4 linked regions of the Homo sapiens genome follow. The protein of the gene in region 4 purifies or fractionates together with the protein of the main gene of each other region. This does not show direct contact. Each region holds a gene or a part of one and is shown on either strand. Other genes may lie near its edges.

Region 1 (6,047 bases), on a different chromosome or scaffold from region 4:
TCCAAATCCAGCCTACCACCTGTTTTTGGACAGCCCTTGAGCTAAGAATGGTTTTTACGTTTTTAAAGGGTTGGAAAAAAAGCAAAACAAAGAAGAATAAGCCACGGAGATTGTAGGTGACTCACAAAGCCTAAAATATTTACTATCTGGCCCCAAAAGAGAAAGTTTACCATCCTTACTAATAGCTACTTTCCTACTTTCTCAGGGTTACAGTTCAATGGTATCGCCAGTCCAGTCCTATACTTTTGCCTTCTTTAAGAGTTAAAAAAAAAAGAAAAGAAAAGAAAACTAAACACCACAACTAAGTTCCCATGTTTACCAAAGTTTTATTGTGCATAATTGTTTTTAGCCAATATTACCCATATTCCAGGTGTGCTGCATATTCTAACAGGCTCTCTATCACATTCAGGGAGACCATGACTCTCCAACTTCTAAACCAGTGACTCTGACCCCTGATCTACATTAGAATCATCTAATTATGCCCCAGCTCCACCTCAGATCAACTCAATCCAAATCTCTGGTGGGCAAGAGTGAGCATCTGTGTTTTCTAAAAGCCTTCCAAGTGATTCTAATATAAGGTCAGGGTTAGAAACAACTATCCTAACTCAAATGGAATCTTCTGGGTATGGTTTATCCTAGAAATGATATTTGCTTTACCAAGGTGGTGTTTTATTGCAGACGTCCCTACCTTGGATTCCTACTGAAAGGATAACTGAGTGCCAGGTTTCAAAGCTAGTTTACCAAAACTTGTTTGATCCAATTGGACTAAACTCCTGAATTCATAGACACTGGGCCCTCAGGCTACAAAGCCTGTGATGGAGAAGTACTGAAAAATAAATACACACTGAAGCAAAGTACTGATAAGTGCAGGGTTGGGCTGAACAGCCTGCTGGCTATCACTCCACAGCACAGAACACACACATGTACCTGGAGCCCTGAAGGACAAAGGGCAATACGCTCTCCTAAATTAAAAAGCCTTATATCAGAGAGATGCCCTGTACTTTCAGTAATGAGAAGCTTCTTAAATGATCAATCCTAGTTGCCTTTCTCGGGGGAGAGAAAACTAATTCCTTTGTTTAACATTTATAATAACTGAAGTCCAGAAGTAGTTGAGAAAAGTACCTTGAAAGAATGTGTGCATCGCCAAGTTTATAGAAATGCTTGTCTATTATTGAGCATTGTAGTACCTTGATCAGGCCTTAGTGTAGCGTGTAACAAATGCCAAAAGGGTGGGAATAAAACTAAAAAGCATTTCAGATTTTCTCTGCATGGCCTGGCAATAGTTCAAGTGTATACCCTTTCAATCCTATAACGTCACTACCTATAATGTTACCATAATAGAGTACCAAAATACTCCACCAAGCAATAATCTTTTTACAACCTAAACATCCCTTAATAGAGACTCTTTAAATATATTACAGATTTGAACATCCATAAACAAAATACCATGTACCCATTAAAAAGAAACGGCAGGTGAAGAAATTAAATATCCGAACAGTATTTTTGTGTATCTATATGATTCAATTTATAAAAAATAAATGATTATAATGGTATGTGTGTGTATATACATACACATACATGTTTTATTTTTATATAAGCACATACTTCATATGTATGGAAGCATAAACATTTTTTAACAACAGTTACCTTGGTTAGCCTGCTATAAAACATACAGATGGCTTTTGTAATTAGAACAGAATTTTCAAAATAACAATATAGGCCAGGTGCAGTGGCTCACACCTGTAATCCCAGCACTTCAGGAGGCCGCGGTGGGCAGATCACTTGAGGCCAGAAGTTTGAGACCAGCCCGGCCAACATGTTGAAACCCCATCTCTACTAAAAATACAAAAATTAGCCAGGTGTGGTGGCACACGCCAGTGGTTCCAGCTACTGGAGAGGCTCAGGCATGAGGATTGCTTGAACCTGGGAGGCAGAGGTTGCAGCGAGCCAAGATCATGCCACTGCACTCCAGCCTGAGTGACAGCAAGACTGTCTCAAAAAAGAAAAAATAATAACTGATATAAAATATTAATAAAGTTGTCTCTGCAGGCCAAGCTGTCTAAGCTACAGCCAAAATAATAATAGAGGAATGTTTTGATGGTTGACTTATTAAATGAGGTGATTAAGAAAATGGCCATAACAAACCTAAAGTGAGGGGCATTCTACAAAATAATTCAACTAACAATGCCATGAAAGACAAAGACTGAGCAATTGCTCGCGATTAGAGGAGGCTACAGAATAATGACACCTGAAGAATGCAACAATGATTTGTAAGGTATTTTTTGTTACAAATACATCATTAGGACACTAATGGGTACGGAATAAAGCCTGTTGATTAGATAATCGCATTGCTGCAATGTTAATTTCCTAATTTTGATGATGAAAAACGTCTTTTGAGAAGAGAATGCCCTTGATTTTAGAAAATAAATCTGAAGCATTCAGGGGTTAACTGCAACTTACAAACGTTTCAGGAAAAAGGTGTGTGCAAGAGAAAAAAATAGAGAAAAAGAGAAACGGAAAAAGAAAGACAAGGCATGTAGTAAAATGTCAGAATTTGTAGTCACAGTGGCTCACGTCTGTAATCCCACCACTTTGGGAGGCTGAGGCAGGTGGATTACTTGGGCCCAGGAGCTCGGGACCATCCTGGGCAATATGAGGAAACCCTGTCTCTATAAAAAAAAAATTTTTTTAATTAGCTGGGTGTGGTGGCTAAAGTGGGAGGATCACTTGAGCCCAAGAAGTTGAGGCTGCAATGATCTGTGACTGCACCACTACACTTGCCACTACACTTCGGCCTGGGTGACAGAGCAAGACTGTCTCAAAAAAAATTGGGGGACTCTGGGAGAATATACAGGAAATCTTTTACTATACTTGCAACTTCTCTGAAAGACTGAAATTATGTCATAATAGAAAATTAGTCTGGGCGCAGTGGCTCATGCATGTAATCCCAACACTTTGGGAGGCTGAAGCGGGAGGATCACTTGAGGCCAGGAGTTCAAGACCAGCCTGGCCAATATGGCGAAACCCTGTCTCCACTAAAAATTCAAAAATTAGTCAGCCGTAGTAGCACATGCCTGTAATCCCAGCTACTAAGGAGGCTGAGGCAAGAGAATCGCTTGAACCTAGGAGGCAGAAGTCGCAGTGAGTCGAGATCATGCCACTGCACTCCAGCCTGGGAGACAGAGCAAGACTCCATCTCAAAAAAAAAAAAAAAAGAAAAGAAAATGAAAAATAAAAAGGAACATCATTGCTGCACAACAAGTCTGAATTAAGTTCCTTTCCATGTTAAGAAGGAAAAGTAAACTGAATTATTCTAGTTCATTTGTTATTCTCATCTAAATAATATGGTTGATTAGTACTGGAACCGGTTATTTGGAAGACACTTGACTTACGGGTAGCAACCAACCCAACTTCAGAGGTGATCTGATTATTTCACAATTTATAGAACAATCTACTTTTAGGCAGATGATATTAACAGGTATTAAAAGTACAAGTGGACTTTGAGCCAAGTATCTATAATCAGATGGTCTTAAATGTGACACTGGACTTATTAGACTAATGTTCAATTATTCCCTTATGAGACAGCATGAAAGAATGAAAATGGAACACATTTTAGTCAGATATTAATCTTAAAATGTAAAAGAACAACTTCCTATGAAGATTTTCTTCCCATTTTAAAAAAGTTTTTATGCAGTAAAAACCATCAGTTAGTTAAAAACTTGGCAAGCCATACAAATTCATTTCCTGAAGATTCTATATATTTGTTGTTTCTATACTGCCAATATGTAAAGTCTCATTACTATTTTACTGAGAAAGTTATGATTTTTCCATTAACTTTGCAGTTTTAAAAGATCAGCTGCACAAGTGCACTTTTATTAGGCTTAGAGGCCAAATATTTTTCTAACAGGAAACAGTTCTGACATTATAATGGAAGTCAATGAAAAAAAAACAGGACCCACAAATCTAGTGAAGCATTTTGCTCTATTAAGGGCAGATGTGTATGTGTGACTAACACTTAAAGAATTCAGAGTAACTTTAAGGGGAATAGAACAGCACAAAATACATTCAGTACCTATACACCCTGCCTGTATATTTGTTTTTCCATTGTTGGGTTTATATGGATATCTATGTTGTTGAAGATTCACAACTGGAGAAGTTATAAAGAGATGCCTGAGTTGCCAAGGACGAAAATGCTTAGAGGCCTATAAGGGTATATGATTTTTCAGGCTGGTTTTGAATTTTGTTTCTAGTAATTTTAATAATATGGGTAAAACAAACCACATGTACAGAGACAGAGAAATAGCTCATGGCACACACTGTGGAAGGCTAAACTACTGAGAAAAATAAGGAGATGTCAGTGTGATGAAGGTGGAAGAGTAGGGTCTGTGAGTTACAACTTCCCTGAGCCTCAATCTTACTTCTAAAGAGAAAGTATTGCCTTATTCAAACCCACACAAACAATGTGGAACTAGTTTCACTTAAATCTTACCTTTTGGCTGAGCGTGGTGATTCACGCCTTTAATCCTAGCACTTTGGAAGGCCGAGGCGGGTGGATCACTTGAGGTAAGGAGTTCGAGACTAGCCTGGCCAATATGGTGAAACCCCGTTTCTACTAACAAAATACAAAAATTAGCCACGCATGGTGGCGTGTGCCTGTAATCCCAGCTACTTGGGAGACTGAGGCAGTAGAATTGCTTGAACCCAGGAGGTAGAGGTTGCAGTGAACTGAGATCACACCACCGTACTCTAGCCCGAGTGACAGAGGGAGACTCCATCTCAAAAAAACAAAAAACAAAACAAAACAAAAACTCACCTTTTGTAATTCCAGCACTTTGGGAGGTTAAGGTGGGTAGATCACTTGAGCTCAGGAGTTCAAGACCAGCCTGAGCAACATGATGAAACCCCATCTTTACTAAAAATACAAAAATCAGCCAGGCATGTTGGCTGGTCCCTGTAATCCTAGCTGTACCAGAATCGCTTGAACCCAGGAGATGGAGGTTGCAGTAAGCTGAGATCGTGCCACTGCACTCTAGCCTGGGTGACAAAGCAAGACTCCGTCTCAAAAATAAATAAAATAAATCTCACCTTTAGACCGGGCGCAGTGGCTCATGCTGGTAATCCCAGCACTTTGGGAGGCTGAGGCAGGCAGATCACCTGAGGTCGGGAGTTCAAGACCAGCCTGACCAACATGGAGAAACCCCGTCTCTACTAAAAAAATACAAAATTAGCCAGGCTTGGTGGCGCATTCCTGTAATCCCAGCTACACAGGAGGCTGAGGCAGCAGAATCGCTTGAACCCGGGAGGCAGAGGTTGCAGTGAGCCGAGATCGTGCCATTGCACTCCAGCCTGGGCAACAAGAGCAAAACTCCGTCTCCAAAAAAAAAAAAAACAAAAACAAAAACAAAAAACTCACCTTTAACAAGCATATAGAGTAGCAATAGAATAGAAAGTGCTATAAGTAAGTAAAAAAATGGCATTCATTTATTCAACAAGCATTTATTGAGAACTACTAACCAGTCACTACGTTAGGGAAACAAGTACAGTAGTCCCCCCTTATCTGTGGGGGATGTCTTCCAAGATCTCCAGCAGATGCCTGAAACCGAGGACAACACTGAATTCCATATATAAAGGGACTTGCCACATAATGATGCTTTGGTCAGCAACAAACCACACATACTATGGTGGTCCCATAACATTATAACGAAGCTGAAAAATTCTGATCACTATTGCCTGATGACCTGGTAGCCATCATAACAGCGTGGTGCAACTCACTTTTTCTACGTTGAGACCCGTTTAAATACACAAACACCATTGCGTTACCATTGCCTACAGCCATTCAGTACAGCAACGTGCTGTACAAGTTTGTACCCTAGGAGCAACGGTATACTGTACAGCCTACATTTGTGGTAGGCTATACCACAGGTTTAAGTATACTCTACCGTGTTGCTACAACAATGAAACCGCCTAATGGAGCATTTCTCAGAATGTATTCTTGTCATTAAGGGACGCATGGCTACTGGTATTCCCTATATATGTATACCTATGAT
Region 2 (6,047 bases), on a different chromosome or scaffold from region 4:
TGTTTTGTACATGTGCAAGTGAATCTGTAGAATCAAGTTCTCCAAGTTTTTTTTGTTTCCATTGCTAAGACTCCTACATTTTTTAAAAGGATATTTTAACTTGGACAGTTATTGCCAAATTGCTCTCTATAGGAGTTGTACCAATTTATACTTTCACTAGTATTGTGTGAATGTGCCTCTTTCCTCCCACTTCTACTAATTGTTACCATACTTTTTTATCTTTTCTAATTTGTAAAGTATACTTACTGTATTTTTCTTATTGTAAGTGAAGTTGAACATATTATACTGTTTTGGAAGCTATTTGTATTTCCCATTCTGGGGTGTGTATGTTAATATTCTTAGCCCTTTTTTCTCTTGGGTTATTTTTTTTTTGTCTTGGGTTGTTGGTTTTTCTTACTAGGCAGAAAGTGTTTTTATGCAATGCAGTTCATTAACCAGCGGTCCCCAACCTTTTTGGCACTAGGGACTGGTTTCACGGAAGTCAGTTTTTCCACCAACGGGGGTTGTAGGGGAGGATGGTTTCAGGATGATTCAAGCGCATTACATTTATTGTGCATTTTATTTCTATTATTATTACGTTGTAATATATAATGAAATAATTATACAACTCACTGTAATATAGAATCAGTGGGAGCCCTGAACTTGTTTTCTTGTAACTAGATGGTCCCATCTGGGGATGACAGATCATCAGGCTTTAGATTCTCATAAGGAGCACACAGCCTAGATCCCTCAATGTGCAGTTCACAATAGTGTTCAAGCTCCTATGAGAATCTAATGCTGTGCCTGATCTGAAAGGAAGTGGAGCTCAGGCAGTAATGTTAGCAATGGGGAGCTGTTGTAAATATAGAAGAAGCTTTGTGAGCTCATGTCCTGCTGTGCTGCCTGGTTCCTAACAGGCCACCAACTGGTACTGGCCAGGGGGTTGGGGACCCCCTGCATTGACCCTTTCTTTCTTTTCTTTTTTTTTTTTTTTTGAGACAGAGTCTCGCTTTGTCATCCAGGTTGGAGTACAGTGGCATGATCTCCAGTCACTGCAACCTCTGCCCCCCAGGTTCAAGTAATTCTTCTGCCTCAGCCTCCTGAGTAGCTGGGACTACAGACATGCACCACCACACCTGGCTAATTTTTTTTTTTTTTTTTTTTTGAGACAGAGTAGCTGGGATTACAGGTATGCACCACCGTGCCTGGCTAATTTTGTATTTTTAGTAGAGATGGGGTTTCTCCATGTTGGTCAGGGTGGTCTCGAACTTCCAATCTCGAACTTCCAATCTCAGGTGATCCGCCCGCCTCGGCCTCCGAAGTGCTGGGATTACAGGCGTAAGCCACCACGCCTGGCATTTTTTTTTTTTTTTTTTTTTTTTTTTTTTTTGAGACAGTATCTTGCTCTGTCTCCCAGGCTGGAGTGCAGTGGCACCATCTCAGCTCACAGCAACCTCCGCCTCCTGGGTTCAAGTGATTCTCTTGCCTCAGCCTTCCGTATGGCTGGGATTACAGGTGCCCACCACCACACCCGGCTAATTTTTGTGTTTTTTTTTTAGTAGAGACAGGGTTTCACCATGCTGGCCAGGATGGTCTTGAACTCCTGACCTCAAGTGATCCGCCCACCTGAGCCTCCCAAAGTGCTGGGGTTACAGGCATGAGCCACCACTCCCGGCCAACCCTTTTTTTTATGGCTTCTAAGATAAGAAGTCATACTCAGGGAATGCCTTGTCCACTGAGATTTTAAAATAATTTTCCTAATTTTTTTTTTATACATTTGAAAATAGAACTTTTGGCCGGCGGATCACGAGGTCAGGAGATTGAGGCCATCCTGGCTAACATGGTGAAACCCTGTCTCTACTAAAAATACAAAAAAATTAGCCGGGCGAGGTGGCGGGCGCCTGTAGTCCCAGCTACTCGGGAGGCTGAGGCAGGAGAATGGCGTGAACCCGGGAGGCGGAGCTTGCAGTGAGCCGAGATTGCACCACTGCACTCCAGCCTGGGCAACAGAGTGAGACTCTTTCTCAAAAAAAAATAATAATAAAATAAAAAACTTTAATTGAATAACCTGGAATTAGATACCAAGAAAAAAAAATCTTTTTTTTTTTCCCTGAGACAGTCTCATTCTGTCACCCAAGCTGGAGTAGTGCAGTGGTGCGACTTTGACTCACTACAACCTCTGCCTCCTGGACTCAAGTGATCCTCCAACCTCAGCCTCTTGAGTAGCTGGGATTACAGGCGTGCACCATCATACCCAGCTAATTTTTCATTTTTAGTAGTGATGGAGTTTCACCATGTTGGCCAGGCTGGTCTCGAATTCCTGACCTCAGATGATCTGTCTGCCTTGGCCTGCCAAAGTGCTGGGAGTACAGACGTGAGGCACTGCACCCAGCCAAAATACATCTTTTATTGAAGTATGATGTACTTATAGAAGAGTGCCCGTGTCATAAGTGAATTTTCAGAAACTGAGTACACTTGTATAAGTAGTATAATAGTTCTCAAAATGTAATCTCTGTATTCCTGGGGTTCCCTATATCCTTCCAGAGGGTCTGTGATGTCAAAACTATTTTCATAATAATACTGAGGTGTTATTGTTTTCACTGTGTTGATATTTGTACTGGTGGTACAAAATCAGTGGTTGGTAAAACTGGCCCCAGCCTGTAGTCCCAGCTACTCCAGAGGCTGAGGTGGGAGCATCACTTGAACCCAGGAGTTTGAGACTCGGCTTGGTCTTTTGGAGCTATAATTGTACCACTGCACTCTATCCTGGGCTACAGAGTAAGGCTGGGCTCTATCTTTTGGAGCTATAATTGCCCCCACTGCACTCCATCCTGGGCTACATAGCAAGACTCTGTCTGTGAAAGAAAAAGCAAAAACAAAATCTCTTGGCCCTTTAGTACAAATTGAGACAGCAGCACCAAACTGTATGCTAGAAAGGGTCTCCCTCTGTCTCCCAGGCTGGAGTATAGTGGCGCTGTCATGGCTCACTGCAAGCTTGAGCTCCTAGGCTCAAGCTGTTCTCCCACCTCAGCCTCCTGAGTAGATGGGACTACTGTCTATGCCTGGCTACTACACCTAGCTAATTATGTTATTTTTTATAGAGATGGGGTCTTGTCGTGTTGCCTAGGCTGATCTTGAAATCCTGGCCTTAAGCAATCGTCCTGCCTTGGCCTCCCAAAGTGCTGGGATTACAGGTGTGAGCTACTGCACCTAGCCCTAAGGACATTCTTGAATGAAAATGACTTTTTTTTTTTGAGATGAAGTCTCACTCTGTTGACAGGCTGGAGTGCAGTGGCGCCATCTCGGCTCACTGCAACCTCCTCCTCCCAGGTGCAAACAATTCTCCTGCCTCAGCCTCCTGAGTAGCCAGGACTGCAGGCACACGCCACCATGCCCAGCTAATTTTTGTATTTTTAGTAGAGACGGGGTTTCACCATGTTGGCCAGGATGGTCTCAATCTCTTGACCTCGTGATCTGCCCACCTCGGCCTCCCAAAGTGCTGGGATTACAGGCGTGAGCCACCGTGTCTGGCTGCCTTTTTATTATTATATTATTTTTAATTTTAAGTGCGTGGTAGTAAATTAAACACCTGGGTGAGGTGGCTCGTGCCTATAATCCTAACACTTTGGGAGGCCTAAGCCGGAGGATTTCTTGAACCCAGGATTTCCAGATTAGTCTGGGCAACACAGTGAAACACATCTCTACAAAAAAAAAAAAAAAAAAAAAAGCTGGGTGTGGTGGCATGTGTGTGTAGTCCTGTAGTCGCACCTACTGGGGAAGCTGAGCCAGAAGGATTGTTTGAGCTCAGGCGTTCAAGGTTGCAGTGGGTTATCATCATGCCACTATACTCCCGGCCTGGGTGACAGAGTCCCTGACTCCAAAAAAAAAAAAAAAAAAGGAAAAAGAAAAGAACATTCTTAGGATAGAAGCAGTGGCTCACACCTATAATCCCAACACTTTGGGAGGCTGTAATGCCCAACCTGGTATTTACTAACTCTGTTTTTAGACTCTCCCTTTTCCCTTAATCACCTAGTCTTGTTTCCACCTGAATTGACTCTCCCTTAGCTAAGAGAGCCAGAGAGACTCCATCTTGGCTCTTTCACTGGCAGCCCCTTCCTCAAGGACTTAACTTGTGCAAGCTGACTCCTAGCACATCCAAGAATGCAATTAACTGATAAGATACTGTGGCAAGCTATATCCGCAGTTCCCAGGAATTCGTCCGATTGATAAACGCCCAAAGCCCCGGATCTATCACCTTGTAATAGTCTTAAAGCCCCTGCACCTGGAACTGTTTACTTTCCTGTAACCATTTGTCCTTTTAACTTTTTGACTACTTTACTTCCGTAAAATTGTTTTAACTAGACCCCCCCTCCCCTTCCTAAACCAAGGTATAAAAGTTAATCAAGCCCCTTCCTTGGGGCCGAGAGAATTTTGAGCATTAGCCGTCTCTAGGTCGCCGGCTAATAAAAGACTCTTAATTTGTCTCAAAGTGTGGCGTTTTTCTAACTCGCTTGGGTACAACAAGGCCAAGGTGGAAGGATCACTTGAAGCTAGGAGTTTGAGCAACCTGTGCAACCTAGTGAGACCCCCATCTTTTTAATAGAAAAAGAAAAAAAAAAGTAAAAAAAATTAGCTGGGGCCAGGCATGGTGGCTCACGCCTGTAATCCCAGCACTTTGGGAGGCTGAGGCAGGCGGATTACGAGGTCAGGAGTTCAAGACCAGCCTGGCCAACATAGTGAAACCCCCTCTCTACTAAAAATACAAAAAATTAGCCCAGTGTGGTGGTGCACGCCTGTAGTCGTAGCTACTCGGGAGGCTGAGGCAGGAGAATAGCTTGAACCCGGGAGGCAGGGGTTGTGGTGAGCCGAGATCATGCCACTGCACTCCAGCCTGGGCCACAGTCCCAGCTACCTAGAGGCTGAGGCAGGAGGGATCTCTTGAGCCCAGGAGGTCAAGGCTGCTGTGAGCCATGATTGTGCCACTGTACTCCACCTTGGTAGACAGTGAGAACCCATCTCTTTAAAGAAAAAAAAACCAAAAACTAAAACAAAAACTAAAGGCCAAGTGCAGTGGCTAATATCTGTAATCCCAGTACTTTGGGAGGCCAAGGCGGGTGAATCACCTGAGGTCGGGGGTTCGAGACCAGCCTGACAAACATGGAGAAACCCCCGTCTCTACTAAAAATACAAAAAATTAGCCATGCGTGGTGGTGCATCCCTGTAATCCCAGTTACTTGGGAGGCTGAGGCAGGAGAATCGCTTGAACCTGGGAGGCAGAGGTTGCAGTGAGCGGAGATCGTGCCATTGTACTCCAGCCTGGGAAACAAGAGCGAAACTCTATCTCAAAAAAAAAAAAAAAAAGGCCAGGCACGGTGGCTCACGTCTGTAATTCCAGCATTTTGGGAGGCCGAGGCCCGCAGATCACCTGAGGTCAAGGGTTTGAGACCAGCCTGGCCAACATGGTGAAACTCTGTCTCTACTAAAAATACAAAAATTAGCCGTGCGTGGTGGCGCGTGACTGTAATCCCAGCTACTCCGGAGGCTGAGAGCAGGAGAATCCCTTGAATCTGGGAGGCGGAGGTTGCAGTGAGCTAAAATTGGACCATTGCACTCCAGCCTGGACGACAGAGGAAACTCCATTTGAAAAAAAAAAAAAAAAAAAAAGACCTAGAATTGATGGAAAGGGAATGTTCTGGTTAAGATAAAAGATTGTGGAGAACAAAGTTCTTTTGAAGTCCTATAGTGGCTGCCCTTAGAGACAATAGAAGACAAATGTTTCCTATTCAGATGTTAGTTAACATCTTTAGGATTGGGAGGGTCTGGAAGAAAAAGATCTAGCTATGTTAATAGAGATTCTTTACGGATGCAAATTCTCCCCCAGAAAGAACAGCTTTGCCGGGCCATTTCTTTTTTTTTCTTTTTTTTTTTGAGACAGAGTCTCGCTCTGTCACCCAGGCTGGAATGCAGTGGCACCATCTTGGCTCACTGCAACCTCTGTCTCCTGGGTTCAAGCAATTCTCCTACCTCACCCTCCCGAGTAGCTGGGATTACAGGTGCCTGCCACTACG
Region 3 (6,047 bases), on a different chromosome or scaffold from region 4:
CAAATCAACTGAAAAGTCTAATGTTAAAATCTTTGAATAGGTATACACAAGCCTTCAAATCACAGACCACCACAGGAACAACTAATGCATAAAACTGATTTTCTACTATCCAAGCATCCACTAAACTAGAGGCAATACAACAGTAGAGACCAGGTCTATCTTCTTTCCACCTGACCCACCACAGAGCCTGACACATGGCAGTGCTCAATAATAAATGAACAAAAACAATACGTGAAAGCACCTAACTTACAAATAAATGTTACATAAACACGATGCTCAGGATAACTGCTGAAATCCTAGTAGATCTGCTTAGAAATCAAATTAACATACCAGGATAAATAACCTTTTCTACCCAAGGATTAGATTCCAGGAACTGGGCAACTGCCATTCCGTTTTTGAAATGCTTTTCCATTCGGACATGTAGAGTCTTCAGACCTCGATTGCAGAGGTAACAATCAATAGGAGATGGAACTGCTCCAAGAGCTGCAAAATGAACACATCCTGGATAAGTTTGAAGGCAGGGTATGGCCAAGAAATTATCTGGCTTCTCTTTTCCATTACAGTGACTCTCAGAAGCTAGGTGTAAAGCTCAATGTTTGAGTTCTAGGAGGAAAATAATATATCAAATCAGAAGCAGAAGAACAAAGCATAGAATATGCTTAGAGAAATTTACTTTAAAATGAGGGGAAGCAAATATGCTGAAAACTAAGTAAAAGCACAATGATATAAACTTCTCAAATATGAAGATAAGTAGTCCTTTCTATGATTTTAATAAAATCATAAATTGTTCATAGCCTAACCTTGTATTTCTTTGAAAAATTATTTTAACATACAGAGAAAAACAGCAGTTCAAGTCCTATTATTACTGAATATTCTACTAATATTCTATTTAGCCTTTGTGCAAAGCGGTCAATGATTTCACATGCCTCCAGGATATATACTTCATTTCTACTTTTTATAAACCAAAGGACACTTATCAAGCAATAAGTTTCAGTTTCCCTTGTGGAGGACATTTTTATTCCTAATCATGTTTATATTTTACCTGTCAAGTTACAATGGCTTAATCTTTAACTATACTGGAGATAAACTAAGCAATGTAAATAGGAAATGGTGTTTAGACATCTATTGAAAAATGTAAGTTTATACTGTAAGTGCTATTTAAAATTAACCATCATTCGTGATATAAAAGGTATAGTATATGAAAGCCCTCATTTCAAATGTAATTTTAAAAAAGAAAAAAAAACCATTAAGTCTTGAAACTAAAAATTCACTAGGGCTTTATCAAATTATGATTATAATTAAGATGGACATGAAAATAAAAAAACTCATTTCTTATATCATATCATAAAGCCTTGCTATGCTATAACCGTTTTTGTTTTTTGTTTTTTGAGACAGGATCTCACTCTGTTGCCCAGGCTGGATTGCAGTGGCACGATGTCAGCTCACTGCAACCTTCGCCTCCCAGGCTCAGGTAATCCTCCTGCCTCAGCCTCTGAGTATCTGGGACCACAGGCACATGCCACTGCACCTGGCTAATTGGTTTGTATTTTTGGTAAAGACAGGGTTTTGCCATGTTGCTCAGGCCGATCTCAAACTCCTAAGCTCAAGTGATCCACCTGCCTCAGCCTCCCAATGTGCTGGGATTACAGGCATGAGCCACCGTGCCCAGCCTGCAATAACTATTTTTATAACACTTTCCTCTAAAATCAGAAAAAATTTTTTTGGCCAGGCACGGTGGCTCATGCCTGTAATCCCAACACTTTGGGAGGCCAAGGCAGGTGGATCACCTGAGGTCAGGAGTTTGAGACCAGCCTGGTCAACACGGTGAAACCCCGTCTCTACTAAAAATATAAAAAATTAGCTGGGCATGGTGGTGGGCACCTGTAATCCCAGCTACTCAGGAGGCTGAGGCAGGAGAATCGCTTGAACCCAGGAGGTGGAGGTTGCAGTGAGCTGAGATCACGCCACTTCACTCCCGCCTGGGCAACAGAGTGAAACTCCATCTCAAAAAAAAAAATTAATAAATAAAAAAAATCAGAATTTTTCTCCTCTATTTTTCATTTCTTCATAAATTATTAGAATGCCATCACTTCACATCACTTAGTGGAAATACAAATATCAAATGTAGTCACTGAGAGTGTCATAGGGAACCTGCACTTTTTAATACTTACAGTTTTGCAAGAAACGAAGTCTATTATGAAGGCTTTCACAATTAACAGACACCAGGCCCATTACAACATCACTGTGGCCTAAAAACAAAAAACAAACAAACAAACAAAAATTTCAGTTAGAAACAATTTATGTTTACTCTTTATTTTATAATTTTCAAAATGTGATTTTCACTTGAAAAAACTCTCAGGGAAAAAGCTCTATAAAATAAGTTTAAGTAACCTTTATTCAACTGGACAGTAGCAAAAGCTATGTCTAAAACAAGAAAATAAAAATTATATAAAAACAAAATGTTTCTTTAAGGTGTCAGCAAGATAAAAGCATAACTTTTTATGGCCAACTTTAATCCTCTTCTCATAAATCATGAGCATAGTTTTGTGTACTGTTAATGAAATCCTACATTTAATCAAAGGATTTTTTTTTTTACTCTCTCTATGAGTCACAGGAAATAATCTACAAAATAATCAAAGAAAAGGGATCAAAAGCCAAGCCCTATGCAATTTTCACCTATCCATGAAAAAGAACATTCAAAGTATGCATCTTACCATTCATGTATTTTGTTGCAGAATACATAGAAATATCAGCTCCCAGAGCCAAAGGGCGCTGAAAGAACAAGTTTTTTACTTTAAATGAGAAACAATTTGAAAATATGCTTCATTACCTGCCTATTTGCAATTATAAATTCCATTCTTATTCTAATCAATACTAACTTTGCAAAAGTATGTGCATCTTAAAATTTTCCAGGATCTCTGATATTATTTCTCCTTTGCCTCCCTCCCACCAAAGAAAAATGTAAAGTATTGAATCCAGTATTGAATCTGAAGGCAAAAGTTTCTTGGAAAGCGCAGATAAGCCCAGGTCAACTGGTCTCTTGAACCTGTTTCTTTATAGCAATTGCTGACAGGACTCTAAATTTATTACCTACAGTAGAGACTCTAGTATTTTATGACTCATTAAACACATAAAATAGTTGAAATGAACATTCAGCAATTTTTATGTAGAGTAAGTATAAACTCATCTGCTTAGATTTTTAATCATTAAAACCTCATGACGTATGCTGTGATTATTTACATTTGGGGTTTGTCATGATCTTGATTCCTAATTACTCAGCCCTTCCTATGTGTGGGTTTCACATCCATGGATTCAACCAACCATGGGTAAAAAAATACTTGGAAAAATAGATGAACAGTTGTGTCTGTATTGAACATGTACAGACTTTTTTCTTGTCATTAGTTCCTAAACAATATAGTGTAACAACCATTTATAAAGCATGTACATTGTATTAGGTATTACAAGAAATCTAGACGGCTGGGAGTTGGAGAATGGCTCACTCCTGTAATCCCAGCAATTTAGGGGGCTGAGGCAGAAGGATCACTTGAGATCAGGAGTTTCAGGCTGCAGTGGACCATGATCAAGCCGCTGCACTTCAGCCTGAGTGACAGAGCAAGACTTTATCTTAAAAAACAACAAGAAAGAAAGAAATTTGCTGGGTGCGGGGGCTCATACCTGTAATCCCAATACTTTGGGAGGCTGAGGTGGGTGGATCACTTGAGGCCATGAGTTTGAGCCCAGCCTGGCCAACATGGTGAAACCCTATCTCTACTAAAAATACAAAAAAATTAGCTGAGCATGGTGGCACGCACCTGTAATCCCAGCTACTCAGGAGGCTGAGGCAGGAGAATCACTTGAACCCAGGAGGCAGAGGTTGCAGTGAGCTTTTCATGACACCACTGCACTCCAGCCTGGGTGACAGAGCAAGATTCTGTCTCAAATAAATAAATAAATAAATAAATAAATATGTCTGAAACTGGGAGAATTAAGAAAAATAAAAATGAAAAGGAATTTTTAAAAGTGTTTTCTTTCACCCAATTTTCCTGTAAATTAATCCTTTAAGTCATGGAGTATAATGTGATGCTCAATACATGTGTAATTGTGTAATGATCAAAAGCAGGGTAATTAGCATGCCCATCATCTCAAATATTTATCATTTCTTTGTAGTAGAAACATTTAAAATCCTCTCTCCTATTTTGATATATACAGTATCTTATTGTAACTATGATCATCCTTTTGTGCAGTAGAACACCAAAACTTATTCCTCTATTCCTCCTTCTAATTGTAACTTTGTACCCATTGACCATCCTCTGTCCTCCCCACCTCCACCCTCCCTTCCCCAGACTCTAGTAACCGCTGTTCTATTCACTACTTCTATGAGATCAACATTTTTTACATTCCACACATGAATGAGATCATGCTATATATGTCTGTCTGTGCCTGGCTTATTTCACTTAACATAATGTCCTCTAGGTTAATCCTGTAGTCTTAAAATGTATTTGTTTACAACCAGAGTGAAAAGTGTAGACTTTCCACTTAATAAAACACTGTCAAGCCGGGAGTGGTGGTTCACGCCTGTAATCCCAGCACTTTGGGAGGCCTAGGCAGGTGGATCACTTGAGGTCAGGAGTTTGAGACCAGCCTGGCCAACATGGTGAAACCCCATCTCTACTAAAAATACAAAAATTAGCGGGGGGTGGTGGTGGAAACCTGTAATCCCAGCTACTCGGGAGGCTGAGACAGGAGAATTGCTTGAACCGGGGAGGCGGTGGTTGCAGTGAGCTGAGATCGCGCCACTGCACTCCAGCCTGGGCGACAGAGCAAGACTCCATTTCAAAACAAACAAACAAACAAAAACATACATTATCAACATCTTTCCCTTTACATTTTCCTAAACATAGAACTGTGTGTTTTTATTTCACCCTCATTAGAGCTGTTTAGTCTTTGGAAGATATTAGTATAGGTGGCTATGGGAACTTTTCATTTAGGGTTCCTAAAGGGATGGGGTCAAAGTAGGTGAGGCCTAAGGTCTTTTCTAGTGCTAACATTCTGTAAACTCTACAGCCAAAAGAGAAGGAAAAATAAAAACCAAATCACTAACACCTCTGATCTCATTATCTTCTGAGAATCATGCTACGTACTTTATATAACCCAGGGAAGCAGTGTACAAAATACCTAACTCAATAAAATCAGTACCTTTATGGCTCTCATCATACAGGTGAGGAAAGGGGACTAAGAAAAATGAGATAGATCCCTCAGATTAAAAAGCTGGTAGAGCCAGGACTCACACCCAGACTGCCTGACTCCAGAGGTGCTACTCTGAAACTTGATGATGGTAGGTCTATTTTGCCTTTCGTGAGACTTACAGAAGATCCAGAGGACAAAAGACTGGGAAGAAAGAGAATATATTCCATTTTCATTAAGGTAAGACAATGAGAAGATTTTTTTCAGGAAGATTTGCTTCATGGAAACAACACATGTGGCTACTTAGGGATGATGCGATTCTGAGTATTTCAGCTGGAATAAATCCAAATTGAAATGAAGCAAATTCCAATCATTGGCATGCGGAATGTGATGTGGGCTTCAAAAAGGTAGAAAAACTAGACCTATGTTAGTGACAGTAATAGGAGAAAGAGGGCCAGGTTTGATGAGTAACCCGGGCAGGTCCAGGCTACAAAACGTATGCAATCTTTTTGGGAATATACAGGACTCACTGTGTCTCAGCTAAAGCTATCCTATGCTGTATTAACTGGCCTAATGTAAGTGGCATATGGGCTAAGGAGTTGCGATAAGGAATCTTACACTGAAAACCACCTGGGACAAATAGAAGATGCCAAATAGACAATGCCAGAAGATTTTTCACTGGGAAACAGACTGCTTTACCTGATAAAATCAGCAATCAAAGATACATTATGAGCCAAAGGCAGATGGCCCACGAAGGTGTCTGAATGCAATGTAGCCAGGAAGTGTGCTTCAGGAAAGGAAAATAAACCATGACAATGCCTTCGAATAAAATGGAGGAAGGTGAAAAGCAGGTTTATACCAAC
Region 4 (6,047 bases):
CTCCTTTATGGAGTTTGAGCTCACTTCCAATAGGGAAAATGAGGTTTTTTTTTGTTTTGTTTTTTGTTTGTTTGTTTGTTTGTTTGTTTTTCCTGCTTCTAGGATGGTAGAGAGTTGTTTTCAGCCTGAGACCCATCCCTAGGTATGTAGCTGAATTGAGGTTTTGTCTTGGCTAAAGTTAACAAAAAGCTGGTTTTAATTTCTGCTTACCATTAGAGTGCTCAGTGATCATATAAGTTGTGCCATTGTTTATTTCTGTTTTTATTGTTGTTTCAGTCTTTTTCCTGTTGGGTTTCATCAATTCTATCCAACTTGATCAAATCCAAAGGAAAGTTCCAAATTATGGGGAATAAGTCCTCTGAAGTGGTTAAATTCCCACACACAAAAAAGGGTGGTGTAGGAGAAAAATGGCCAGCAAAAGAAAAAAAAAAGAGAAGGGAACATTTTTTTATTTTGATTACTAAAGGGGCTTTATTTTCATAACAAGGCCACCTTTTTGCTAGCTGCCAACTGAAAGCAATGGCTGTCACCTCACCCTGTAGTTCAATAGCTAAAGTTCTGCCTTCTTTTTTTCCCTATCACAACAGCCTAGGTTTGGTTCCTAAATCAAACCCTTTCTGGTTTGATACTTGGTACTTCTGAAATAGCAGCAATTTGTCCTAGATGAAATATAGTAATGAGATTTTAAAAGATTTTTTAAAATGAGCTCAATGGTTAAAAGTCAGCTTAATTAAAAGCTAACATCCAAGGTGTGTTTGTATTTAAAAGGCCTTCATGTTTTTGTTTTGTTTTTTTCTCACCCAAAACCTTGTCTTTTTTTTTTTTTTTTTTTTTTTTGCAAGTTTTTTCTTCTCAGTTGACTGAATTCTGTTTTCTTCATTAATAGCTATTGCAACAGAGGCCACTCTGGGATTTTTAAGGAAGAATGTAGCTTAGACACTTAGAAATGTCTTTATTAAAAAACAAAAAACAACAACAACAAAATTTTTAAGTGCACTATAAAAGCATCACATGGTTTAACCTCAAAATAATTCTCCCTTTTTGGAGACCCAGGATTCAGTGTGGGCTCCTCCCAGAGCTCAGAGATCCAGTTAAAAGACAGGTAGTCCCAGGCCGGGTGTGGTGGTTCACGCCTGTAATCCCAACACTTTGGGAGGTCAAGGTGTGTGGATCACGTGAGGTCAGGAGTTCAAGACCAGCCTGGCCAACATGGTGAAACCGTGTCTCTACTAAAAATACAAAAATTAGCTGGGTGTGGTGGCACATGTCTGTAATCCCAACTACTCAGGGGGCTGAGGCAGGAGAATCACTTGAACCTGGGAGGAGGAGGTTGCAGTGAGCCTAGATCGCACCATTGCACTTCAGCCTGGGCAACAAGAGCAAAACTCCGTCTCAAAAAAAAAGATAGGTAGTCCCTATCTAAATAAAATTTGTCTCCTTATACAATCCTATGATAGATTTCTGTAATTTTGTGTTTGATTTGACATCCATCTTCAATCTCCCTCTAGAACCATCAGACTTTTTCTCTTTGTACCTTATGGTGTAAATTTTGCTATTTGACTTTTCACCTGAGTTGTTTCCTTTAATATGAAAATTTAAGGCTATTTAGCTGAGAACTGCCTAGTGTTGTGAAACAGGTTATCAAGAATCTGGAAGTCTAAGATAGGAAAGAAAAAAGGTCTTTATGAATCTATAAGATGTACTTCTATTGGCATGACTAATATGTCAATGCATTTATGTGTTGTGTACACAATGTTTCACTACTGAAAATATATAAAAGAGCTCTAATTAATTGGCTTAAAGAAAAAGAAAAGCACTTAAATCATCAAATACTTTATCAGAAAAAGGAAGACTAGTCAAATCCTTTTTCAAGTTCATGTAACTTAAGTAAAATATTTAATAAATAAGCTAGCTTTAAAATTATTGGTAAAGTAATATTAGAAATGTCTTAAGAATTGCCAGCATACATTTTTGTTTGCATTTATTAATCAAGCAATTTCATACTTATTACTGCCAAACACTATAAGGTGTCAAAATTTGGCATAGGGATTAGAAAACTATAAACTCAGACCAAAACAGAATGATCTCTGCTTGTGTAATCTTTAATAAATAAGACATTGATATTGGTTTAATAAAAATAGCTAAACCTTAAATTTAGTAAGATTACCATAACTTTAATTTTGTGGCTTTAGGTGGTCTAGTCCACAGGAAGTAAGGTTTGTTATCGTCTTTGTTTCAAAGCTAAACTATAAACTAAGTTCCTCTCAAAATTTGTTTGGCCTATGCCCAGGAATGAACAAGGACAGTTTGAAGGTTAAAAGCAAGATGGGGCCAGTTAAGTTAAATCTTTTTCACTGTCTCAGTTATAATTTTGCAATGGTGGTTCCATAATTTTAAATGATGACTATCACAGTTTTCATAAATAATCTAGGTAAACAATGAAAATAAAATAATTAGGTAAATGTAATAGAATAAATACTTGTAGACACATTCATCATAATTTAGAATCTAAAGTTATATTAAATTAGATAATAGATATTTCATTATTTGGGTATTTTCTAATAAAAATATAATTGTAGGAAAACGTTCTTTCTAAAAAAAAAAGTGTGTCCTTTAAAAAAAAGTGAAAAATTTTTGTCTAATTCAAAGCTTATTTAAAGATCATGTATAAAACAAGGTAAAAGGAACCAGGAAATAAAAGAGATGTAAAGAAAGTTATAAAAATAAAGATTTTTTTTGTAAGAAAGCTTAAAGAGAAATAATTTCATATGAAAAAGAATATTGTGTGGTAAATTTAGTCCTAGAGTAAAATGACATGACTGGTTATTTAAGAAGGAGGGATGTTCAAGACAAACTGGAAAGTCCAAGCATGTCACAAAAGGTCTATGTAAGTCACAATAAGCGGATTTATAAAACAAACAAAACCAAAAACTTTTATATGATCAAGTTGTCATATTATTATTAAGTTTTGGTTTGCTTAGGAAAAAAAGATTAAAACTTTTTTTAAATTAAGGTTACTACATCTGTGTATCTCTCTTGTGAACCCAGAAAATCTCAGACAGGTCTCAGTTAATTTAGAAAGTTTATTTTGCCAAGTTTGAGGACGAGCCCATGACACAGCCTCAGGAAGTCCTGATGACATGTACCCAAAGTGGTCAGGGAACAGCTTGGTTTTATACATTTAGGGAGACATGAGACATCAATCAATATATGTAAGAAGTACATTGGTTCAGTCTGGAAAGGTGGAACAACTTAAAACAAAGGCAGGAAGACTCTAAGTGGGGAGGGAGCTTCCAGGTCACAAATAGATAGTAAACAAACGGTTACATTCTTTTGAGTTTCTGATTAGCCTTTCCAAAGGAGGCAAATTAGATATGTATCTATCTCAGTGAGCAGAGGAGTGACTAAATAGAATGGAAGGCAGGTTTGCCCTAAGCAGTTTCCAGCTTGAGATTTCCTTAGTGATTTTGGGGGCCCAAGATATTTCCTTTCACACTCTTTATGCTCTTTTAAAGTACTTGTGACATTGAGTTACAGGGCTTTGATGCCTTGGTCTAAAAAGGACATCAAAGTCCTGCTAATTTTTTAAACACTGACAGCCATTAAAGCCCCCCATCTTCAGGCCTGGTAGAAGATGCCAATCAAAATAAACTGTATTCCTGAAACACAGGGCCAGAAATTAAAGCTATTAAACTCCTCAAGGCCCAGGGACTATCACAGAAGAGATGGGCATGTGAGATTGTGAGGGCCAATTTTAAGAGATAAAACAAGTTCTGTTTCTCTACATGTTAATCATTAATGTCAAAGGCACACTGATGCAAGACCAGCATATGGGCCCCTGTGTCAGATTAACAAGGTTTTCTTGAAGCATTAACCAACTCCTAAAGGTTATAAAGGTTATGAAAGGCTTATGAAAGTTATATCTTATGGTCAAGATTAAAATGTTATAGATTGTTTATAAAATTTTGAAAAATGAATTTAATTGGCTTCATGCTGTTTTTATTAGGGCTTATTGTTTGGAAAATTAAGTCTCCTCTCTCAAAGAATGAAGGTTTTCACCTTTTTTGGGGAAATCCTTGAGTTATCACTTTGGTTAAATGAATAACTTATTTCACAATGACCTATTAATTCTATTTTGTGATATCAAGTGTTTTAAACCTTTGATATTTGACAAACTTTCCAAAATCAAACTATAAATTATGTCTTTTTCTGACCTAATTAATCCTTTAAGATATTGTTGGGCCTGGCACAGTGGCTCACACCTGTAATCCCAGCACTTTGGGAAGCCAAGGCCAGCGGATCATGAGGTCAAAAGATCGAGACCATCCTGGCCAACGTGGTGAAACCCCATCTTTACTAAAAATACAAAAATTAGCTGGGTGTGGTGGCGCATGCCTGTAGTCCCAGCTACTCGTGAGGCTGAGGCAGGAGAATCACTTGAACCTGAGGGGCAGAGGTTGCCGTGAGCCAAGATTGCACCACTGCACTCCAGCTTGGCGACAGAATGAGACTCCCTCTCAAAAAAAAAAAAAAAAAGGTATTATTAATAGGTTCCCTAGAGTCCGAAAATGACATATTTGGCTTATTTGGTATAAAAATTATACAGGAAGCATAGTCAAATATGAAATGGTGTTTGGTTTTCTTTGGGCTGTATTTGTATAAATATGTTACTGGTATGTGTTCCAAAATCATGGGAAACTCCTGTAATTTTGGTATGACTTAGTGTACATTATCAGTAATAATTATAATTGTTATGTTAAATTATCATATGCCACAGAGATAACAAATTTCCTTGTCAATTGTTTCTTTATGGCTGCCCTAAAACCTTTCATCATCCACAGACAATTGTTGTCTTGTTTTGGTCCTCCTTAGAAGGTGGTTTTATAATCAGCTATAGAACTCTAACAGGTGTTCTTAAATGCAGGTTTCTGATAACTTTGGAGATTGTAACCTTAGAATAGAGGAAAAAACTTTCAGGACTCTCATGGAGAGCTGAAGTGTTCACGAATATCAAGCAGAACAGGATTAACTGCATAAACTAAACTGATAGAAGACTAAAGTAATATTTTTAACTTTTTGCTTAAAACGTTGCTGATCCTTTTTTTTGTTTTTCAGAGTCAAGAAAACTTTTCTTTTAAGCTATTTACAGCTTTTAGCAATTGACTAAAGTATACTCCCATGAACAAAACTTGGGGCATATTTGTGTCTCTCTGCCTAATTTCTCCAGAATTTGGAAATTATTTGTGAGTATTTGTAACTTATAACAATACAGCTATTTACGTAAGTGCAGTAAGAATCTGTTTCCATTTGTAACAGGACACAATTGGAGAAACTGGTTATTTTATCAAGACTTTGACTGGAATGGTGTGCTTTCCCTTGGAATCAAACTTGACTTCTGGAACCAAGATAGCCCCTTGGAAAAATTGGCCTCTTACCTTTATCTACACAGCCCCTGTACAGGGTTCCTGATCTGTGGTAGGTAAAGAATGTCACTTTCTGACAGGCCCAGGAGCCCCAAGTTTACCTTGGAACCTCAAGAGGAGAGGTTAACTCAATTCATAGGTATTTGATAGCACAAATCCACGGCTGGGCTCAGCTTTAAAGAAGTCTTATCTGAGATTCTTTCTACAGAACACAGTTTCATCAAAGCCAATTTAAAAGCCTATGTAAAAAATAATTATTCTTACCAGCCTGGCCAACATGGTGAAATCCCATCTCTACTAAAAATATAAAAATTAGCTGGGTGTGAAAGCACATACCTGTAATCCCAGCTACTTGGGAAGCTGAGGCAGGAGAATCACTTGAACCCAGGAGGTGGAGGTTGCAGTGAGCTGAGATCACGCCACTGCACTCCAGCCTGGGCAGCAGAGTGAGACTCCATCTCAAAAAATATATATATATTCTTGCTGCTCTGTATACAAATAATTAGGCCAAGTATAATAAAGCAAACAAGTCCTACCATAATTTGTCTTTAGTAAAAATGGGAAACTGGAGAGAGAAAAGATTGTTTCAAAAAGTGTAGTACACCTATTGTTAGATTTTAGTCT

Evidence for each region.
Region 1: the proteins of RDH12 (region 4) and CCDC25 purify together in Homo sapiens (affinity purification with mass spectrometry, with the first as the bait; one large-scale study listed by BioGRID). This does not show direct contact.
Region 2: the proteins of RDH12 (region 4) and ZBTB8OS purify together in Homo sapiens (affinity purification with mass spectrometry, with the first as the bait; one large-scale study listed by BioGRID). This does not show direct contact.
Region 3: the proteins of RDH12 (region 4) and CTH purify together in Homo sapiens (affinity purification with mass spectrometry; one large-scale study listed by BioGRID and IntAct). This does not show direct contact.

The regions. Positions count from the first base shown.
Region 1 is NC_000008.11:27,765,366-27,771,412, forward strand, and holds part of CCDC25 (coiled-coil domain-containing protein 25), read right to left. Parts: intron 1-6,047.
Region 2 is NC_000001.11:32,642,364-32,648,410, reverse strand, and holds part of ZBTB8OS (protein archease), read left to right. Parts: intron 1-6,047. UniProt on the Homo sapiens protein: Component of the tRNA-splicing ligase complex required to facilitate the enzymatic turnover of catalytic subunit RTCB. Together with DDX1, acts by facilitating the guanylylation of RTCB, a key intermediate step in tRNA ligation.
Region 3 is NC_000001.11:70,426,519-70,432,565, reverse strand, and holds part of CTH (cystathionine gamma-lyase), read right to left. Parts: intron 2,773-6,047; coding exon 2,715-2,772; intron 2,250-2,714; coding exon 2,172-2,249; intron 484-2,171; coding exon 331-483; intron 1-330. UniProt on the Homo sapiens protein: Catalyzes the last step in the trans-sulfuration pathway from L-methionine to L-cysteine in a pyridoxal-5'-phosphate (PLP)-dependent manner, which consists on cleaving the L,L-cystathionine molecule into L-cysteine, ammonia and 2-oxobutanoate.
Region 4 is NC_000014.9:67,707,284-67,713,330, reverse strand, and holds part of RDH12 (retinol dehydrogenase 12), read right to left. Parts: intron 1-6,047. UniProt on the Homo sapiens protein: Retinoids dehydrogenase/reductase with a clear preference for NADP. Displays high activity towards 9-cis, 11-cis and all-trans-retinal. Shows very weak activity towards 13-cis-retinol.